Homo sapiens: one gene and its partner. The protein of the gene in region 1 purifies or fractionates together with the protein of each later gene. This does not show direct contact. Each region holds a gene or a part of one and is shown on either strand. Other genes may lie near its edges.

What was found. The genes of interacting proteins can lie anywhere in the genome.
Region 2: the proteins of GPATCH3 (region 1) and PAXBP1 purify together in Homo sapiens (affinity purification with mass spectrometry; one large-scale study listed by BioGRID and IntAct). This does not show direct contact.

The regions. Positions count from the first base shown.
Region 1 is NC_000001.11:26,896,845-26,902,402, reverse strand, and holds the start of GPATCH3 (G patch domain-containing protein 3), read left to right. Parts: upstream 1-1,935; 5' UTR 1,936-1,960; coding exon 1,961-2,411; intron 2,412-4,677; coding exon 4,678-5,102; intron 5,103-5,281; coding exon of another isoform or gene 5,282-5,313; intron 5,314-5,558. UniProt on the Homo sapiens protein: Involved in transcriptional regulation. It is able to activate transcription from the CXCR4 promoter and therefore it might control neural crest cell migration involved in ocular and craniofacial development.
Region 2 is NC_000021.9:32,758,067-32,762,474, reverse strand, and holds part of PAXBP1 (PAX3- and PAX7-binding protein 1), read left to right. Parts: intron 1-157; coding exon 158-379; intron 380-1,312; coding exon 1,313-1,416; intron 1,417-2,480; coding exon 2,481-2,698; intron 2,699-3,205; coding exon 3,206-3,395; intron 3,396-3,786; exon of another isoform or gene 3,787-4,408. UniProt on the Homo sapiens protein: Adapter protein linking the transcription factors PAX3 and PAX7 to the histone methylation machinery and involved in myogenesis.

The sequences.
Region 1 (5,558 bases):
TGGCATGATGGGACAGTAGATCAGATAATGCTTTACCTTGAAGCCAGCCTATTCTCAGGAGAGGCTGTTAAGGAGGAGATGTGCGCTGGCTCAAGCTGAGGGTAAGCCAAAGTTCGGGAAGCTGGGGGAAGGAGAGAAGTTTTAACCAAAGTTTGTTCCAACTGATCAGTGGGGACAAGAAGTTCCTCAAAGCTTTCATGAGGAGATTTGGAATATGGAGTCTGTGTCTGGCTTTGTCATTGGTGAACCAGAGGGGCATACACCAGTCTTACCTAACTCACTTGGGGAAGGATGTTTTTTTGCAATATGCTGTGTTCCAGAACACAAAACAGTGGGAAGGCATTTCTTAAGCCTTAGTTTTCCAGGATCACAGGGCTTGGGTAAAAGTCAACATTATCAATAAGTCTTCTGATAAACATGTGCAGTCATTTTTTTTATTGTTTAGACAAGGGTCTTGCCAACTTGGCCAGGCTGGTCTCAAACTTCTAAGCTCAAGGGATCCTCCTACACCAGCTTGCCAAAGTGCTGGGATTACAGGCGTGAACCACTGAGCTTGGCCCTTTATTTTTTGCTTTTGTTTGAGGTCTCTCAATCTACAGGTTCCTCCTATCACCCAGTATAATGTGTAGACTTTGTCTGAATTATGAATCAATGAATCAATAGTAATCAAATAACCCAATTAAAAAACGTACAAAGAGGGCCGGGTGCGGTGGCTTACATCTGTAATCTCAGCACTTTGGGAGGCCAAGGCGGGTGGATCACCTGAGGTCAGGAGTTCGAGACCAGCCTGACCAATATGGTGAAACCCCGTCTCTACTAAAAATACAAAAATTAGCCGGGCGTGGTGGCACGCACCTGTAGTCCCAGCTACTCGGGAGGCTGAGACAGGAGAATTGCTTGAACCCGGGAGGCGGAGGTTGCAGTGAGCCGAGATCGCACCATTGCACTCCAGCCTGGATGACAGAGCGAGGCTCCATCTCAAAAAAAAAAAAAAAAAAAAAAAAAGACAAAAAGGCGGGGACCGTGGCTCACACCTGTAATCCTAACACTTTGGGAGGCTGAGGCCAGTGGATCACTTGAGCCCTGGAGTTCAATACCAGCCTGGGCAATGCAGTGAGACCCCATCTCTACAAATAGTTTAAAAAATTAGCCAGGCATAGTGGGTTGCATCTGTGGTCCCAGCACTCCAGCCTGGGCGACAGAGCGAGACCCCAACTCAAAAATAAATAAAATATTACCTACAAGTGCTGAGTCAAATGATGTGTAGCTTTGCTTTTACTAGATAACGCCAATTGTTTCCCAAAGTGGTTGTATCAACTTACATTTCCACCAACAGTGTATGAGAGCTTCAGTTCCACCATGTTGTCATCGACTCTAAGGTTTTAAAGTTTGCCAACATAGTGGATGCAAAGTGGGTCTCGCTGCATTTCTTTTATTATTGAGTTGTGCATCTTTTCTTTAACGTAAGCCTCTAGTAACTCATAGCACTTTCATTGTAAATTGGACCTGCGTGTTTCCTCTTTTGCGAAGTATCTTCGGCCCATTTTTCTACCGGGTTATCTTTTTCTTACCGATTTGTGGGAGTTCATCAACACATTTTGGAAAAATAAATGGAAGAACGACTAAAGGTTCAGAACTGAGGAAGGTTGAGATTAGGTGTGCAATATCCACAACTAAATACCTCAAAAATGACCCCTCCCGCAGGCTTCTTATTTGGTCCTCATGAGAGCTTTATGAAAGAACTCTATGACCCCATTTTCCAGGTGAGTTTTTCCATCATCGCCGGCTTCCCTCTGTGGGAAAGGAACACAGAAGACTTCGGATCTTCCAGCTCCAGGTTCCACAACCCCAATCCCAAAGGACTAGTTAGAATTTTCACAATCTCGCAACGCAGGGGCTGGAACGTTGCTCGCGGTGTTCTCGCGAGACTTGGTTCTAGCTGATCATGTGACAATCCAAGATGGCGGTGCCCGGCGAGGCGGAGGAGGAGGCGACAGTTTACCTGGTAGTGAGCGGTATCCCCTCCGTGTTGCGCTCGGCCCATTTACGGAGCTATTTTAGCCAGTTCCGAGAAGAGCGCGGCGGTGGCTTCCTCTGTTTCCACTACCGGCATCGGCCTGAGCGGGCCCCTCCGCAGGCCGCTCCTAACTCTGCCCTAATTCCTACCGACCCAGCCGCTGAGGGCCAGCTTCTCTCTCAGACTTCGGCCACCGATGTCCGGCCTCTCTCCACTCGAGACTCTACTCCAATCCAGACCCGCACCTGCTGCTGCGTCATCTCGGTAAGGGGGTTGGCTCAAGCTCAGAGGCTTATTCGCATGTACTCGGGCCGCCGGTGGCTGGATTCTCACGGGACTTGGCTACCGGGTCGCTGTCTCATCCGCAGACTTCGGCTACCTACGGAGGCATCAGGTAAGAGTGAGAAAGTTAATAGACTGGGCCTACGGGCCTGGAACAGAGGCACCTTTTCAGAGGAGTGGTGAGGATAAGTCAGGCCTCTGGTTAGGACTCTATGAGTTTAGTTCATATTCTAGACAGAGCTTCAGGCTCAACTTGCAGGGAGTTAGTCCAATACATGGAGAAAAATAAACCGGAGAGGCTTATTCGGAAGAGCCTTCATTTTGTTAGGTCCCTTTTGAGACCCTTTCTCTATCCAAGGGGTTGATTTTGCACTAACACAGAAAGAAAAAAGGAAATCCAGTCTCTAACCCTTTTACTGTCTTTCTCTCCTGCTCTCTCTGTGCTTCCTACCCAGTCCTTTCAGTAAGATACAAATGAAGAGACAATCTTTTCTCTGGACAGCTCCCACTTTCATGGGAAATCAGTTTGATGGGGAAACAGGACAGTGCAGAGCCCTCCAGTTCACACATTCAACAAATGCTTACATTGCTAGACCTAGTGTGACTAGCTGGGTATGCAGAGAACAGTTGGACATAGTGTGTGCTCAGAATCCACAAAGGAAGACATTTGGAAAAAGGTTATTGCCACAGAGATGTCATTCTAATTGTTAGCATTCACTGAGCACTCTGTATTTAGTAGGCGCTGTTCTAAGCCTTTTGTTTTCTTACCCCTCTCAACAGTCCTATGAGATAGGAGCTGTTGTTTCTCCCATTTCATAGGTGAAGAAACTGAGGGAAGCCGAAGTTATGTGACTTGCCTGAGGTTACAGAGTTAGTTAGTGTCAGAGCTACAACAAACCTAGGCATCTGTTCCAGAGCCTATACTGTTTATCACCAAGTGCTGTGAGATGACAGAGAAGGGAGAAACTAACTTCCTAGATGGATCATGAAATGTGGCTTTCCATCTGGGTCTTGAAAAATAAATAGGAGTTAATAGGAGAGAATGGTGTTTCTGGGTTTCAGGGTAAATGGCGTTTGCAAAGACACAGCTTTGAAAGCCCGTGAAAAACTTTCAGGGCATGTTAAATTGTTCATTGTGGGCTGGGTTGCAATGGCTCGTGCCTGTAATCCCAGCACTTTGGGAGGCACAGGTGGGTGGATCTCTTGAGCTCAGGAGTTCCATACCAGCCTGGGCAACATGGTGAAACCCTGTCTCTACCAAAAATACAAATTAGCCGGTTGTGGTGGCGCATGCCTGTAGTCCCAGCTACTTGTGAGGTTGAGGTGGGGGGATCACTTGAGCCCAGGAGGTGGAGGTTGCAATGAGTCAAGATCGCGCCACTGTACTCCAGCCTGGGTGACAGAACGAGACCCCATCTCAAAAAAAAAAAAAGAAGAAAAAAAAGAAATTAGGAGAAAAATTGTTTGGTGTGGCTGGAACACATCGTATGAAGACATGCAGGAGGTGGGAGTTGGTGACAGCCGAGAATCAAAAGGTCATCAGGTGGGTAGATATCACTTGAGGCCAGGACCAGCCTGGACAACATGGCGTAACCCTGTCTGTACTAGAAATACAAAAATCAGCCAGGCATGGTGGCACATGCCTGTAATCCCAGCTACTTGGGAAGCTGAAGTATGAGAATCACTTGAACCCGGGAGGCGGAGGTTGCGGTGAGCTGAGATTGCACCACTGCATACGCCAGTCTGGGTGACAGAGTGAGAATCTGTCTCAAAAAAAAGAAAAAAAAAGTTCATCAGGAGCCAGAGCTGGAAGAAACTTGTATGCCCAGCCAAGGTGATGAGAAGTGACATGAAACTACTAGGTAGTTCTGTAGTTCCGCTTGGGGAGAGATGAAAAGACCTGGAGAAGTTTGAGAGGGAGGAACAGCATGAGGCTAATGGATTTATTTTATTATTTATTTATTTATTTTTGAGACAGGGTACTCTGTCGCCCGAGATGAAGTGCAGTGGTGCAATCTTGGCTCACTACAGCCTCACCTCCCAGGCTCAAGCAATCCTCCTGCTTCAGCCTCCCAAGGAGCTGGGATCACAGGGTGCACCACCACTCCCAGCTAATTTTTTTATATTTTGTAGAGATAAGGGTCTCACCATTTTGCCCAGGCTGGTCTTGAACTCCTGAGCTCAAGCAATCCTCCTGCCTCAGCCTCCCAAAGTGCTGGGATCACAAGCGTGAGCCACTGTGTCGGCCTAGATTTTTACTAGGGATTTACTAGATGTTTACTAGGGAAAGGCTAACAGATTTAAACATTGGCCAATTTCTGGCTCAAGTGTTGCTGGAGGCTTCTGGGTTTCAAGATCTATTCTCCCTCCTTTCCAAGGTCTGGGCTCCTTTCCCTTCAAGACCCGGAAGGAACTGCAGAGTTGGAAGGCAGAGAATGAAGCCTTCACCCTGGCTGACCTGAAGCAACTGCCGGAGCTGAACCCACCAGTGCTGATGCCCAGAGGGAATGTGGGGACTCCCCTGCGGGTCTTTTTGGAGTTGATCCGGGCCTGCCGCCTACCCCCTCGGATCATCACCCAGCTGCAGCTCCAGTTCCCCAAGACAGGTTCCTCCCGGCGCTACGGCAATGTGCCTTTTGAGTATGAGGACTCAGAGACTGTGGAGCAGGAAGAGCTTGTGTATACAGCAGAGGGTGAAGAAATACCCCAAGGAACCTACCTGGCAGATATACCAGCCAGCCCCTGTGGAGAGCCTGAGGAAGAAGTGGGGAAGGAAGAGGAAGAAGAGTCTCACTCAGATGAGGTGAGTACAGTGTGCTACCCTGTCCTTGCTGGCAGCTGAAAGAGGCCGAAGGCATTAATAATACCACTCTTCAATTGTCTATTACAAGGGTTCTTAACCTGGGGTCCTCAGGAGGGTTCCAAGGAGTCCAAGAAGGAATGTAAAACTATATTTGCATGTGTGTTTCTGTATTTCTGTAGGGAGATGGTCCAGAGCTTTTACCAGAAGATTCGTAAGTGGGTCTTATTTTTCATTCCCTTGGAAGGGATATATAAGGATGGTTCCTTTTTTTTTTTTTTTGAGACGGAGTCTTGCTCTGTTGTCCAGGCTGGAGTGCAGTGGCACGATCTCGGCTCACTGCAAGCTCTGCCTCCTGGGTTCACGCCATTCTCCTGCCTCAGCCTCCCAAGTAGCTGGGACTACAGGCGGCCACCACCATACCCGGCTAATTTTTTGTATTTTTAGTAGAGACGGGGT
Region 2 (4,408 bases), on another chromosome or scaffold:
CAATCTTTTGGATTGCAGACATAGTATGGGAAGGAGGTGCCAGCAGCTGAAACATCACTGTGATGAGGCTATCTTGGATTATTTTACCCTTCATATTTTCAAGAAAATAGAAACTTTGCATCTCTCATACTGCCATATTCTTACCATTTGTTTCTAGGAGAAATTCCAGATGCAGCTTTTATACATGCTGCAAGGAAAAAGCGCCAAATGGCCCGAGAATTGGGAGATTTCACTCCTCATGATAATGAGCCTGGTAAAGGCCGCCTTGTTAGAGAAGATGAGAATGATGCCAGTGATGATGAAGATGACGATGAGAAACGCCGGATAGTTTTTTCTGTGAAAGAAAAGTCACAAAGACAAAAAATTGCTGAGGAAATAGGTAACTTGATTTAATTGAATAGTAAGCCTATTGCATTGCCTTTTTTTGTTTGTTTTAAGGCAGGGTGTCATTCCATCACTTAGGCCAGAGTGCAGTGGTACAATCATAGCTCACTGCAGTGTCTTGACTCGTGGACTCAAACAGTCACCCTTGTCTCAGCCTCTCGAGTAGCTGGGACTACAGGTGTGCGTCACCACACCTGGCTAATTTTTTTATTTTTAATTTTTTTGTAGTTATGGGGTCTCACTGTGTCTGGTGTCTTAACTCTTGGCTTCAAGAGATCCTCCTGCCTTGGCCTCCCGAAGTGCTGGGATTACAGGCATGAGCCACCATGCCTCAGCCTCCCAAAGTGCTGGGATTACAGGCATGGGCCACCATGCCTCAGCCTCCCAAAGTGCTGAGATTACAGGCATGAGCCACCATGCATGGCCTCTAATGCTATTAAATGTGATTTGATATTATAGTCAAGTAAAAAGTATTTAGACTTACTAAATTTTATGTTAGAGGACTATTCTTGGGTACAAGTGTTTTATTGGAATTTTTAAAAACTAATATCATTGTGATAACTCATGTTCATTGAACATTTATTGTGCAGCTGGTATTGTGCTTAGCAGTTTACATGCGTAAATTCATATAGTTCTATATTCCTAGGAGGCATTAGATTTTGTTCCCTTTGTTGATGTCAAGTTTACAGAGATTAAGAAACACATCCAAGATTTTAACTATTACATTAATACTGCCTTTAGCTTCAAGGAATACTGTGTTTAAAACAGGCAAAGTCAGGACTACCAAATGAGAGAGGAGATCATATTAGACATTTTAGTAAGATTGAGTTAATAGTTTTGCTCAGTTCTTGTGAAATGTCAGGACAGCATCTTTTACCTCTTTGCTCTTTGGGTGTTACTTACTTTTCTTTGTTGCTCATGGCTGTAGGAATTGAGGGGAGTGATGATGATGCTTTAGTAACTGGAGAACAGGATGAAGAGCTCAGCCGATGGGAACAGGAGCAGATAAGGAAAGGAATTAATATCCCTCAGGTACGACAAAAGAATTAAACTAAAAATTAAAAGTAGATTAAAAAGCCTTTTTTATTTTGTTAAAGTAAAAAATTCCGTATTGAATCTTTGTCATTCATTTCAAGTAACAAAATCCCATGAGGAGACACACACACACACACACACACACACACACACGCACGCACGCACACAGAGACACGTAGGCTTTTAGAAGAAACTGCAGTGTGTTCGGCTTTTTGCAGTCAGAATGATGGAGGAATTTCCAATTTCTTAGATGAGTTTTTCTCAAAGTGGTCCTTCAGTTAGCATTAGCATTACCCGGTAGCTCATTAGAAACGCAAATTACCAAATTATCAGCCCCCAGAGACCTACAGAGTCAGAAGCTTGGGGTGGTGGGGCCAGCAATCTTTGTTGAACAAGCCCTCCAGGTGATTCTGATGCACACTAAAGTTTGAGAACCATTGCTTTAAATGGAATGTTTTTGTGCGTGTAGCTTATTTTTTTGGACTTTAAGAATTATTTTGAAGAAGATGGATTTCTCAATAATACAAAAAACTTGAGATCGATGAAAAATATCTTCCCAGTTATAACAATTTGTTTTATAAAAGTAAGTAATACAGTGAGAAAAATTGCATAAACGTAAACCTATTTTTGTTAATAGTGTTTTGAGGCAGAATTCGCATACATTTGGGTGAAGTTAAGAAAATGGCACAATAGAGAAAGTCTTGGACTGGATGTCAGGAGTCTTAGATTCTAATCTCTGGTTGCCCATTGATTCTGTGACCATGGGCAAGGCATTTATCCTCTTTCATTGATCAAAGGTGGCCTTAAATGATTTTTGATGTTTCTTCCAACTCTGAACTCTGTTTTTCTGAAAATTATTAGAAATAAATTTAGTGATTCCACCAAGAGATAGGACATTCATTCAATCCTGCTTTTATCTAATTTTGAAGAATTCTGCAATTATTACATAATATTTGGCAAATAGGTATAATTTTTGCTGTTGATTTTTTAACCCTAAAGGCATATTATTATTTTCAAAGTTTTAACTACCAGATTTCATCTATATCCCATTTCTTTTCTAGGTTCAAGCCAGTCAACCCGCAGAAGTGAATATGTACTACCAGAACACTTACCAGACAATGCCTTACGGCTCATCCTATGGCATTCCTTATAGTTATACGGCCTATGGATCATCAGATGCCAAATCTCAAAAAACAGATAATACAGTCCCTTTCAAAACTCCCAGTAATGAGATGACTCCCGTTACTATTGATTTGGTAAAGAAACAGCTTAAAGACAGGTAGGGCAGATCAACTTCTTAAAGACCTGTCCGCTAGCTTTCTGTTCCCTCAGGCAACATGTAGTCTGGGGTAGCAGATGCAGAATATCAGCAAAGAAGATTCACTGGCCCAGCTTCAAAAGCTAAACAGAAGATGACTTCATACTTTGTTCTGCTACCTTCTTGGATTACTTCTGTGGAAGCCTCGAAAAATTATAAAAAATGCCACTCCATGATCTTGTTGAAGACATTTCTGAGTTTGTACCTCTTGGACTCTGAAAAAGTGTAGTCACGCTATGGGGGGAAAAGCAAAACAGTGAGATTTTGGTTAGCCCACAAAACTGTGAAATCTGTAAACTGCCATTTTTTGTTTTTTGAGAAAAAAAGCAGTACAGAGGAAAAGATGCCATTCCAAATATTTTTATGTTCTAATAGTGGAGCTAAATGCATATTTTAATATTGCAAGAGTCCTGACACCATAGACCTTTGGATGTAAATGTGTTATATTTATCCTTTTGTGTTCCTAAGGTTGGACTCCATGAAAGAATTGCACAAAACAAATCGACAGCAGCATGAGAAACATCTGCAAAGCCGAGTGGACTCTACCAGGGCTATTGAAAGATTAGAAGGGTCTTCTGGGGGTATTGGTGAACGGTATAAATTTTTGCAAGAAATGCGAGGGTATGTCCAAGACTTGCTTGAGTGTTTCAGTGAAAAGGTAAGAATGCAAAAATACTAATCTCTTTGAATAAGGCAAAATTAGGGAGGTCTAGATGGCCTTGTGTAGAACATTCTATAATTCTCAGAAAGTACCCACTGAACTCAACATTAGAAGTGATGAAAAGTCATGCTTCATTTTTCTTCACTTCATTAGTGGCATTATCTCTTAAGGGCAATATAATACCTTTGTTGAAAACAGAAATAAAGATAATATCTTAAAGCACATTTAAATAAGACTTTGGAAAGTCTTATTTCAATATGGTGGTAGATTATTATTGGCCTGTGCTGAATTCTTAGAATATAAGGGACTCATCTGATAAAATTTTCTTTTCTGGTTCAGGTTTAAACTTATTTTTAAACGTTTCTACAAGCAATTCTAAATATGCATATAAAGTTGCAAATTTTTATTAGTTTTTTTTTTTTTTTTTTTTTTACCCTGGATGATGATTACCATTGTTGCTAATAGTTTTTATCTAAGTAAGCCTATGCTTGATTTCTTTCAGAAACCATTTCATTGGATATCATTTTTTCTAAGGTTTCATTTCTCCCAAGTTTGTTTTTTTCAATAGGATAGTCAGTTGACAAAATGTTTGGCATTCTTATACTATTTATTGTTTACATTTAAAATTAGGTGCAAACAGCTAGTTTCTCAAATGACCTCCTAATTGATTTTTTTTCTTTAAGATAAAAGTATTGGTTGAGGCACTGGTTTATAAGCATTTGTGGACTTTGCAGCCTTATCTTTAAAAAAAAAAAAATTAAAACTGTGGTCCTTAAATATCCTGTCTGAACTTTGGATTGGAAGGCACATTTCCCTTTGTTATTGGCTATGTAGATTAGCTTAGAATCTGTAAGCATATAGTGTGGTTAAATATGTATTTCAACTTTTGTTATCTTTGTTGATTACTTGAATACCCTAAAACCAATGGCTGGGAAAAGATCATTGCCAGACTATGTCTTCCTGATGGATCTTTCTTCCTGATGGGTCTTAATGGTTCCAGTCAGTCTGTG